Linked DNA regions of Homo sapiens: region 2 is linked to region 1. Evidence: fine-mapped expression QTL. Tissue or cell type: skeletal muscle. Region 1 holds a variant in brackets; the other region holds the start of a gene. All regions are shown on one strand. Distances are from middle to middle.

The links. PIP is the estimated chance that this variant, and not a neighbour inherited with it, causes the effect.
Region 2: it holds the start of SPTBN1-AS2, and the variant in region 1 is fine-mapped to the expression of SPTBN1-AS2 in skeletal muscle (GTEx, PIP 0.94).

Annotation. Positions count from the first base shown.
Region 1 is chr2:54,465,350-54,471,477 of GRCh38, forward strand. The region is part of intron 1 of SPTBN1 (spectrin beta, non-erythrocytic 1); the gene reads left to right. Among named protein-coding and RNA genes, the nearest start is that of SPTBN1, 12 kb to the left of the region's middle. The variant T/C (reference allele first, on the strand shown) is at 3,451.
Region 2 is chr2:54,677,773-54,683,900 of GRCh38, forward strand. SPTBN1-AS2 (SPTBN1 antisense RNA 2) reads right to left here and starts at 2,273. Exons shown (of 3, transcript NR_186176.1): 1 at 2,052-2,273. LOC105374653 (a long non-coding RNA gene) reads left to right here. Exons shown (of 3, transcript XR_940104.2): 2 at 3,784-3,983.

The DNA.
Region 1 (6,128 bases):
GAAACCTAAACACTGCTACTGGAGCTAGTTTGTAACCATTAGACCATCAGGTTTCAGTGGAATTGGTCAGAAATGAAGGTAAAATTCCAAGTGAACATTTTAAAATAAAAATCACTTCAGATTTAGATTTACTTTCAGTGAATGGTATCTCAGCATCTGGGAATATTGTAGGCTAAGATTGAGAGGAACTAATTTTAATATTCTTCGTTTTTTGTATGAAAAGAAATTCCTGTGCAATGTTATATTTTTGTATATATACATATATGATGCATACATATCATGTTTATCTCATATATATATATATATATATATATATATATCTCACACATGGGAGAGAGAGGTGTGTGTTTGATTGAGTAATCTCTACCACGAAGGGAGGCACATATTTTAAAACATTTTAAATGGGGAATTTTATAGAGACAGTATTTTGAAAAGGAGTCCCATGAATGAGTCAAGTTGTCCTTAGCCAGTGGAGGAAATGTTTGGGAGGGAATAGTACTTTCTATTTTATGGTCCAAGTCTCTAAGTGTGTTGGTACTTTGTGAAATGTAGCTTATAAAAATTAATGAATTTCCATTAATTTTGTATTTTTTCTGCCATCAGCTTTAACTGAGTGGTTGTTTGAAGAAGCTTTCAGGATTAATTGTGCTTTGACATATAAAAATAAGATGTTATCAAGATTGCTTTAAAACTGACCCTTGTTTATAGGAGTCATACGTCCATTCTTAAGAAACTCTCAACTGTGACAGTAAACATCTGAGTGATTTTTAGAACCATTTTAATATCTCTGCTCTAGAATCGAGAATGCCCTGTTAGTTCTGATTTTTAATATACAAATTTGAAGCCACTAGTTAGGCAGTAAAATATGTATTAGAACATAACTATAGATTTTTACCCAATAGATCAATTAGTATGAAATTTAGGATGATATATAAGTACAACAGAATTTATTCCTTTGAGGTATGTATTTTCAAAGTGTAATTTGTGTAATTAAGTATGTTTATTCTTCGAGACCATCCTGGCTAACACGGTGAAACCCCGTCTCTACTAAAAATACAAAAAATTAGCCGGGCGTGGTAGCGGGCGCCTGTAGTCCCAGCTACTCGGGAGGCTGAGGCAGGAGAATGGCGTGAACCCGGGAGGCGAAGCTTGCAGTGAGCCGAGATCGCGCCACTGCACTCCAGCCTGGGCGACAGAGCGAGACTCCGTCTCAAAAAAAAAAAAAAAAAAAAAAAAAAAAAAAAAAAAAAAAAAAAAAGTATGTTTATTCTTAGAAAGTTCATGAGCCTATTAACATTGGTTATCTTGGGTAATGGAATTGCAGAAGATTTCATCTCTGTATATTTTTTTCTCCATATTTTTTAAGTTTTAGGAAATAACAAATTCTTGTTCTTTATCAAAAATATCCTAACACTTCTGACCAAACCTCATTTTAGCTGGATACAAACTAATCAAATAATTTACCAGCTAAATATACTTTCTGCTGTTCAATTTTTTTCTACCAAACTTACGGAAAAGCAGTATTAATAATGAAGATATAAAGAACACTGAAATTTTTGAAAGATCTTTTCATTCCTTGTTTAAATGTTCATTTTTGTTACAGCCTTGGCAGTTCATTACTTATGCAGAGTGTGGGAAAAGCTCTAAGAACTGGCCGAGAGAGCGCCTGACAGAAACATTGTCCAGGAGGAATCAGCCACTAATGGCCACTGCCTTTGGCTCTCGGTGAAGTTTCGTTTCCCTACAGTACTCTTGGGTGGCTGTTTCAGGGATACATTTTGTTCTAGTGTGTTTGCCTCAAGGCCAAATATAAATGTTGAAGGGCTGTACATTTTTCTGGAATGTTCTTCACCAGCTGTAAAGTCTTGGGCTGGGATAGGGATAGGGGATTTTTTTGGGGGTGGGGGGGCTTTTTTCTCTTTATCTTATTTACTTGAATGGGAAGGAAAACTTAGATTCTTCCTTAAAACAATGTTATTTATTTTGATCTGTGATGTTTAAACATTTTCCACGGCATTTTGAAACCTGTAAACATAGGAGTACTTTGTTGTTGCTGTTGTTGGAGACAAAGTCTTGCTCTTATCCCCCAGGCTGGAGTGCGATGGCGCGATCTCGGCTCACTGCAACCTCCGCCTCCCAGGTTCAAGCGATTCTCCTGCCTCAGCCTCCCGAGTAGCTGGCGCCTGCCACCATGCCCAGCTAATTTTTGTATTTTTAGTAGAGACGGGTTTCACCATGTTGGCCAGACTGGTCTCGAACTCCTGACCTCAAGTGATCCACCCTCCTTGGCCTCCCAAAATTCTGGGATTACAGGCGTGAGCCACCGCGCCTGGCCAGGAGTGTTTTTATAGTGATTACAATAGTTTTAAAAATTAAAATAGTCTTTGTATTTTTACCACCTTAGAATCCCTGATTTTTTTTTTTAAATTTCTGCTAATACACATAGTATATGTGGTTTTTTGAATGGCTTATGAAGACTATATACCATCATAAAGGCATAAGTTAGTATAAAATCATCATAACAAAATACAAAAGTATTTTTAAGATATCTTTTTATTACTGAAATAATAGATGTTTTAGATCATATGGAAACTAAAGATGAATACAAAGAAGAAAATTAAAATCACTAGATACTATGTGACCCCGGAAACATACAGTTAATATTTTAGTGTTTCTCGGCCAGGTGCGGTGGCTCACGCCTCTAATGCCAGCACTTTGGGAGGCCGAGGCGGGCAGATCATGAGGTCAGGAGTTTGAGACGAGCCTGGCCAACATAGTGAAACTTTGTCTCTACTAAAAATGCAAAAATTGGCTGGGTGTGGTGGTGGGCTTCTCTAGTCCCAGCTACTTGGGAGGCTGAGGCAGGAGAATCACTTGAACCCAGGAGGTGGAGGTTGCAGTGAGCTGAGACCGCACCATTGCGCTCCAGCCTGGGTGACAGAGTGAGACTCAGTCTCAAAAAAAATAAAATAAAAAAATAAAAAATAAAAAAATAAAAAAATATGTGTGTATATATATTTATTTATTTATTTTAGTGTTTCTCTTTTAAGCCTTTTTTTTCTGTGCATGTTTCTTCATCTCACACATACATATTAAGGGCCAATCCTCCAATCTTAAACTGAAGATGTAGAGTTTTGACAGTCTCTATAATGACATGATGATGTTCAGCACTCTTGCAGCTTATGCATGTTGCATGGCAAAACATAAAATCTAATGACTGGTCTATAGTTAAAGCTGTAGCATGAACACTATCTGTTGCCCTGAGCTGTTTTAGGGGTGGGATGTTAAAGAAAAATGGAAAGGAAGAAAGAATTCAAAAATTTGTTTATTATAGCTGTTTCTCTTTTATGAATAATGTCTTTTTACAATGGAAAAATACCAGAAATTAAATTCTCATTAGATAATGTGCTTTCTGTTTTGTTCTGAAGGGAATTCCCATCACAGTTGCAT[T/C]AATTCCCCTGAGAGACATCTCCATATGCTTCGGACAACATCTGATTTTACTTTTGTGTTCTGATTTCAGAGTCTTTGAAATACCTATCCCATAATGTGTCGCAGTGGAATGGATGTGGTTATTATAATCTTGGTTTTAAGTGTAATAAATTTTACTGGGCTGGGTTTGGTTGTAACTGATGAAAGCATATACTAGAGCTCAGCTTTCTTGGGGTCTTTGTATTAGCTGGATTCTTTACAATTCTATCTTGGGATTTAGGATCTGTTTCAAGAAGAAAAAGCGTTATTTCTATTTGATTATGCAAGCCAGTTCTTTAAGCCTTTAGGACATCAGATGGATGGAGGTGACTTGCTGGCCTTTGTTGCCTTTAACTCTAGTATTCGGCTTCTTTCTGAGGAAGGTGCCAAAACGGCTTCCGTATCTGCTGAAGGAAAAGAGGGAGTGGGAAGAGGGGAGAAATATTTCATTGGAAGATAAAAAAAGCTCTTTCCAGCAATTTCCTTTAGAAACTTGGGGGTTGCTGTTAGTCTCATTTGGGTAATGGGCCCCAAGGAAAAGTGACAAATGGCCTTCTTCTGGGGTTTAAACACTAAAGGTCAGTGTTGGCCCTTTTCACAGTTAAGAGGGAAAAATCTGAGCTGGGCTGGGTGGACTTTCTCCAACTAAGGGATTCTTCTGAAACTCCTAACCTGATGGGAATCATTTTGTTTGCAGGTGGCCAAAGCCCATCAAGGGAAATGCTTGATGGTTACTGTGCCTGAGCTGCCTGAAGCCTGGTGTAGGAGTCTCAACTTGATCTTGAGGCAGCTGCAAATGTTAGGTCTTGACACTTGGGATGGCAACAAGACCAGGCAGTGCCCAGAGTGGTCCCAGCGGCCTAGGTTAGAGGAGGGTAGGGGGCTGGAATGTGGCCTTAGCCAGTCCTCTGAGCAGATGAGAATACCTGTCACTATTTCAGGAGATGAGTTGTGGTCAGAGATATCAGTCAGGTGACTTCTCTGAGAGGGGCCTGGTCCTTCTCACAGCAAGATTGACAAGTCTGTGCTGCCAGTTGTCCCTAAATACCCAATTTATCTCCTGGGGTGGAGTTGGGGAAGTGCCTCTAGCCTGGAGCAAAGAGATCTGCCTGCCATTTCGGAAGGAAAGAAACCAGCACACATCCTGTCTTTCATTCTCTGTTTCAAAGGTAGGTTTTTGTCTGTTTGCTTGTTTTTAAATCAACACCCAGGGCTAAAGGAAATCCCGAGTTTCCCTGATAATCAGGATGATTTCTTATTTTGAAAGGCCTATTTTGCCTTCGAAGTGTGTGTTTCTGACATAGGTTTCATCCTAGTTCTAGAAATCTTGCTTAATTCATAAAAGGTAAAAGTTTAATTAGAGAGAAGGCTGATGTATCGTCTTGTTTCAAAGGGAGACTATTCTTGTCTGTCATTTGAATTTTTTATATATATTTTTTCCGGCTGTGAAGAAATATTTTATTGGTACATGTGTACATGCATTTTTTATTCTTAATTATAGTATGTATTTTCACTGGACTACACTCTTGTTAAAGGAAACTTTGTTCACGTGAAATAAACCTATCTTTAGTGAGTCATACTTGAGAACTGCTTCTCAGTCTCCTCAACTTTTAAAGTCAGTGGTATTTCATGTAAAGAGTGTATCGGTAGCTGGCCTATCTCTGGAATGTTGTGCAGCTGTGCAGAGCGTGAGTCTCAAATGTGCTAATTAAATATGTTTTTTAGCAAGAATGGAATGTAGCAGCATTTGAATGGCTTCAAAAAACATTCCATTTTGTTTCTGAAGAGGGCTTTTTTCGTTTTTGCCAAATATTAAAAATTAGAGAGTACACTGACTTTTAGAGGATGTATTGCTATGTTAAATTGTTCTGTTCACCAGAACAGGGTGGCATGTGCCTGTAATCCTAGCTACTTGAGAGGCTGACGTGGGAGGATCTCTTGAGCCCAGGGCTTCAAGACTAGCCTGGGCAGAGTAGAAAGAACCTGTCTCAAACCCCACACTGTTCTTTTCGCAGAGTTAATGGGGCTCATTAAATACTGAGATTATCCTTTAGAACAATCTTGTCCAACCTACAGCCTTTGAATGTGGCCCAGCACAAATTTGTAAACTTTCTTAAAACATTATGAGATATTTTTTGTGATATTTATAGCTCATTAGCTATCATTAGTGTTTTACTTTATGTATAGCCCAAGACACTTCTTCTTCCAGTGTGGCCCAGGGAAGCCAAAAGATTAGACACCCCTGCTTTAGAATGTACTCAATTAATAATCTTCAAAATGTAGGGATTAGGTGGGGTGGCTCATGCCTGTAATCCCAGCACTTTTGGAGGCCAAGGTGGGAAAATTGCTTGAGCCTAGGAGTTTGAGACCAGCTTGGGCGACATGGTGAGACCTGGTCTCTACGAAAACAAACAAAAAGAACAGAATGTAGGCAGTGGTGGCATGAGTAAGGTTCTAAGGTTTACCATCTTTAGTTGATCTTGCTCATTTCCCTTGGTATCAGTTCTCCTTCCTTACTTGGTGAGTGCTTAACCTTTCTTTGGGCAGTAAGGCATGACATTTCTCCCCAGGTTGAGCAGTTTTCTGATACATATTTTTTGGCTGAGTGTGACTTGTATCTTTTTGGACTAAGCTCCATTCACTCAGATGGTGGTCTGATT
Region 2 (6,128 bases), 210 kb after region 1:
CAGCAATTAGACCTCCATTTCTCAGAAGAGGAAAGAGGGGAAGCGTGAACAGACAGAAGGGCTCATTTTCTGTTTGTCAAAGGAATAAATGGATTAAGGATCCTTGCATTTCAAGATGCATTTCAAGATTTCAGAGATGGAGTCTTGATAAGACAGTGAGAACTGACTGAGAGGGAGCTGCACCCAATCACGGGGCCACGCACCCAGGGACAGTTGCACCTATATGGATTGTTTCCCAGCCAAATGATGTTCTGACCATTAACTCAGGCATCTGGGATTCCCCAAAGAAACAGATGAGTAGCATCACTTGGGGGACTTTATTTTTAAAAATAAAAATTCAGTTCCTTAAATAGGCATTTGGTGACCTCATGTTTTTTTAGTGAAACATGTTGGTAAGAGATGCAATATTTTGAACAGGAAAGACAGTATGATAAAAGCATTCTTGGGCCAGGTGTGGTAGCTCACACCTGTAATCCCAACAGTTTGGGAGGCCAAGGCGGACAGACCACTTGAGGTCAGCAGTTCAAGACCAGCCTGGCCAAAATGGCACAACACCATCTCTACTTAAAAAAAAAATTAGCTAGGCCTGGTGGTGCACGCCTGTAATACCAGCTACTTGGGTGGCTGAGGCACGAGAATCACTTGAACTTGGGAGGTGGAGGTTGCAGTGAGCTGAGATCATGCCCATGTACTCCTGCCTGGGCAACAGAGAGAGACTCTGTCTCAAAAAAAAAAAAAGCATTCTTCCTTTTTTTTTTAACTCTAACAACCCACTGGCCCACATGCCTCAAATCCTACATAGTTAAACATCACAAGTACCTATTCTGCATACAATTTTTACTTACATATGCATCATAAACATTTTGCTGTGTTTCTACAAGACTTTGTGATGCTTATTTCAAGGACTATTGGTAGTTTTCCACAAGTTGATGCAGCATCAGGCATTAAAATGCTCCCCAGATGCTGAGCATTTAGCAATAACACCATTCTCCACCAAAGAGGCTTGTGTTCCCAAAATTACAGCTCTTGGTTCTTTTTGAGAGCAGTTTTCTGGGGGCATAAACTGCCCCCTGGTATGGCTACTGCACAGACCATATTCCCCTTTAATCACGTGCCTTGGTGCAGGGTACGCATCTACTAACCACTTTCCCCTTGTGGAAATGTTCTCCCAGGGGAGTCATTCTCCTGCCCAGCCTCAGAGAGAGCCTTGATCTCAGCCGCTCTGACAGCTTCAGTCACTTTACATTTCAGGAAACTGAATATAGGTTCTAATCTCTTTGCTCTCTAAAAGCTTCTGGGGTCCTAATGCAAATTTTATCACCCCTAGTTTAACACACTGTAAGCCCACATCAATAATTTTCAAACACAAGCACACAAATAATTTTTATCTTACCAAACACCCTCCCAAGCTTCTTGGCAATTGCCAGGTCAGAAGCTAAGGACACGTTTACAGATTTTTGCTAAATATTCCTATTACTCCTTTCCAAATTACTTTCCAAACAGTGTATCCATTTAGTTACTAGCTATAAACAAAGGTACAGTCAGTCCTCACTTAAGGTTGTCAATATGTTCTTGCAATCTGAAAGTAAGTAACACCAATTTTACCACAAGCAAATTAATATTCCTATGGTTTATTTCTAGTCACAAACACATCAAAATTCTAAATAAAAACCAAAGGCCGGGCGCGGTGGCTCATGACTGTTATCCCAGCACTTTGGGAGGCCGAGGCGAGTGGATCATAAGGTCAGGAGTTCAAGACCAGCCTGACCAACATGGTGAAACCCCGTCTCTACTAAAAATACAAAAATTAGCCGGGCATGGTGGCGCATGCCTGTAGTCCCAGCTACTCAGGAGGCTGAAGCAGGAGAAACACTAGAACCTGGGAGGCAGAGGTTGCAGTGAGCCAAGATTGCACCACTGCACTCCAGCCTGGGCAACAGAGTGAGACTCCGTCTCAAAAAAAAAAAACACTTCTGATATTAACCACTGAAATAAATATGAGCTATACATACATTTAAGAAAGATAAATAAAAGCAAGTAAGATAACTTACTCAATAATAACAGTTCTCTAGGTTGCCGGAGTCTCCAGTCTCCGGTTGCTGTAGCTCATTCCAGCAGCTCAGGGCTTAAAGTAAGAACCAGCCCTGAACAGGACACTGTCACATCGCAGGGCACACTCACACACACCCCACACTCACACCAGGACCATGTAGACATGCCGGTGAACTGAACATGCACCTCTTTGAGGGGTGGGAGAAAACCAGAGCATCCAGAGCAAAACCCCTGTGGACGTGGGGAGAGCATGCAAACCACACAGACAGTGGCCCTGGCAGAGAATCAATTTTTTTCTCATCATTAAAAAAAAAAAAAAAAAGTTGAATGAAATGACATTATCTGAGGAACTGTTCTCGTTGTTGTGCTACAGAAACAATTGTTTTTGTTTTTAGTAACTATCATATGGCACCTCAAGCTGTGAGTTTCTTTGACTGCTAGCTAGGGTCAACTTTTTCTCCTGTTTTTGTCATCTTTCTTTTTTCTCTTTCTTTCTTTCTTTCTTTCTTTCTTTCTTTCTTTCTTTCTTTCTTTCTTTCTTTCTTTCCTTCCTTCCTTTCTTCCTTCCTTCCTTCCTTTCTTTCTTTTTCTTCTTTCTTCTTGCTTTTTTTTTTCCTTTTTGTTGAGATGGGGTCTTATCTGTCACCCAACCTGGGGTATAGTGGCATGATCACGGCTCACTGCAGCCTCGACCTCCCAGGCTCAATCGATCCTCCTGAGAGCTGGGACTACAGGGATGTGTCACCACTTTCTTTTTGAGTGAATTGAATTGTTCATTCATATCTGATTTACTGAGGGTTCTGAATCACAAGCCACAAAAACCAACTCTGGCTAATTTAGCAGAAAAGGAACTTATTAAGGCTCCCAGAATCTCCAGGAGGACAAGGGCACCAGGCTTAGGGCTTATACAGCCAGGAAAAATGTCCAAAGTCCAGCCTAGGGCAGGCTCCTGGAACTCGTCACTGGACTCTGACACTGCCAGGTGCCCACCATGACACCATACTGTGCGCAAACCCTGCTGTGGGAATTGCTGTCTTTGACAGCAACACGCTGCTGCAGTGACAGCTGTCCCTGCCACTGCCCTCACAGAACAGATTCTGCCAGGCTCCCCTCTGCACATGACCAGCCTCTAATTCAAAATCATGCAGGTGTACAATTGACAGATACTGGCCATGGATCTGTGCCCTTGCTGCAAGTGCAGCTGGGAAAAGACCTCATATTCTGCAGAAGGAAGGTTCTGCCCCTTGAGGTTACAGATTCTGCAAACACAGGAACAGCGTTTAAAAAGTAGCTGGCTGTGTGAATTTCCCTTTGCTGCTATACCAAATTACCACAAACTTAGTGGCTTCAAACAACATAAATTTATTATCTTACAGTTCTTCCATAAGTAAGAAGTCTGACACAAAAACTCACTGCATTAAAATCAAGGTGTTGGCAGGGCTCTTTTCCTTTTGGGATGCTCTAGAGGAAATTTCAATTCCTTGCTGTTTGCAACATTTAGAAGCTGCCCACATTCCTTGGCTCATGACCCCTTCCCCATATTCAAAGCCAGCAATAGTGATCAAGTCTTTCTCACACTGCATCACTGTTGCCATCCTCTGCCTCCTTCATCTACTTTCAAGGACCCTTGTGATTATATTGGGCCCACCTGTGTAATCCAGGATACTCTCCCTGATATGGTTTGCCTCTGTGTCCCCACTCAAATCTCGTTTTGATTTGTAATCCGCACAGGTCGAGGGAGGGAGACCGTTGGACCATGGGGGCGGTTTCTCCCATGCTGTGGTCATTGAGTTCTCAGGAAATCTGATGGTTTTGTAAGTGTTTGGAAGTTCCTCCTTGCTCCACTCTCCTGCTGACTTGTGAAAAATGTGCCTGCTTCCCCTTCCACCATGACTGTAAGTTTCCTGAGGCCTCACCAGCCATGCAGAACTGTAAGTCAATTAAACCTCTTTCCTTTATAAATAACCCAGTCTCGAGTAGCATCTTTATAGCAGTGTGAAAGCAGACTAATACAATCCCTATTTTAAGGTCAGCTGATTAGCAACTTTAATCCCCCTTTGCCATGTAATGTTAAACATATTTGTAGTTTCTGTGGATTAGGATGTGGACATCTTTGGGAGACCATTATTCTGCCTACCACAGTTGCCAAAAACAAAAAAACAATGAAGCTATCCACTGCAACATCCTTAGTCTGCTTATTTATTGGCATCACTATGATTTGCTTATAAATTGAAATGTTTTCTCCAGATTTTTACCTTTTATCAATTACACCAAATGAAATATTTCCCTCAGTCTGCTGTTTTGTTTTTGTATGAAATTTATGTTTCAGTATTAAGGTCTGTTCATTTCCTTGTGGTTTTATTTCTTCAAAACTGAGGACATGAATCTTCTTTCACAGATCTGATAACACATTTATTTTGTGCTTTTTAATACCATGTTTAAATTTAAATAAATTCTTCTGAAATTTGTTTTGATGTCTTTTATAAGGGGTACCTCTACCAATTGTTTTCCCTGATCTCTAGCCGGTTATCCTAATACTATTTACCTAATACTATTTAGTAAACAATCTCCATTTGACCTCTTTTCCTTTTTTTTTTTTTTTTTTTTGAGATGGAGTCTCGCTCTGTCGCCCAGGTTGGAGTGCAATGGCATGATCTCAGCTCACTGCAAGCTCCGCCTCCCAAGTTCAAACGATTCTTCTGTCTCAGCCTCCTGAGTAACTGCGACTATAGGTGCACACCACCACACCCAACTAATTTTTGTATTTTTAGTAGAGATGGGGTTTCACCATTTTGGCCAGGCTGGTCTCGAACTCCTGACCTCAGGTGATCCACCTGCCTCGGCCTCCCAAAGTGCTGGGATTACAGCCATGAGCCACTGCGCCTGGCCCTGTTTTCCTATATTAAAATATTAATAACTGATTTTCATTGAGGATCTAATATTTACTAAACACCAGGATTGGTACAGTTAGCATTATTTTGTCTCTTAACAAAAATACAAGGTAAACTCATGTCTATTTTGTTCCCATTGAACCCCCTGTACCTAGCGCACAGAGTACCCAAACCTAATCCACAGCAGGCACTCAATAGGCATGTATTGAATGAATAAACAGCTAAAGTAAATTTGTATTTGAATCAGTCCTTGTTGATTTCACTAATTCACTCTATCATCCTCTTCTGTATTTGGGTCCCATTTCTAGTTTCTTAACGTTTTTCTATTTTTTTTCCACTAGCACCACACATTATATTATTGCCATTTTTTAACTCCAAGGGTTTTTAGCTGTTGTTTTTCAAAGTTTTATTTTGTTTACATAGAATTCAGTCCAGCATAAATATCTGCATTCAGATGTAGGTGCTGGTGCCAGGGGGGATGGGATGGGATCGGTGGTAGCGGGGCGTATGTTTGGTAGAGTTTGTAAACTGGGTGGACAGAGCTTTTGATTCTGAAGATTGCGATGGTTACTATTGTGAAAGAGAATCTTGTGAAAAGTCCACTGAGTGATGCAGCTCTTGATAAGTTCCTTATCATTGACCATTCAAAATGTAATTCATTTGGACTTTGCTGTCTTATACCTTACTGTGCAAGTAGATATAATCTTTAAACTTTCATTTCTCCCTGAGTATTTGTAACAGAATAGGGTTTGTATTCACACCTGGAGCCTTTTTATAATGTTTTCATTTTATTTTTGGAGCATTGTATTGTTATCATTTGCTCTCATGTTCTGAACCAACTGAGAAATAAGAGGTATGTGGATGAAGGCCAAAATATCAACTTTATTACTGGTGAAGTTTAGGTTGTGGGAGGTACCTTTGTGCTTATATCTGAAGCTGAGCATACAATAGACATACCTGCCCAGTTATGGAAGGTACTGGACCATCTCAGGTCTCCTCTGATGAGGGCAGGACATTTGTTATTAAGCCTATAGCTTGGCCAAGGGCAGAGAACATGAGCTCCATGCAGGCAAGCTGAGTTTCCATGAGCAAAATGGGAAGGGGCTGAGCTGGGCTTGCCCTTTCCCATCAGATAAACCACTCTATTGCCTCAGGGTGGAGTGAATAAGTGGCGACAGGAAGTGG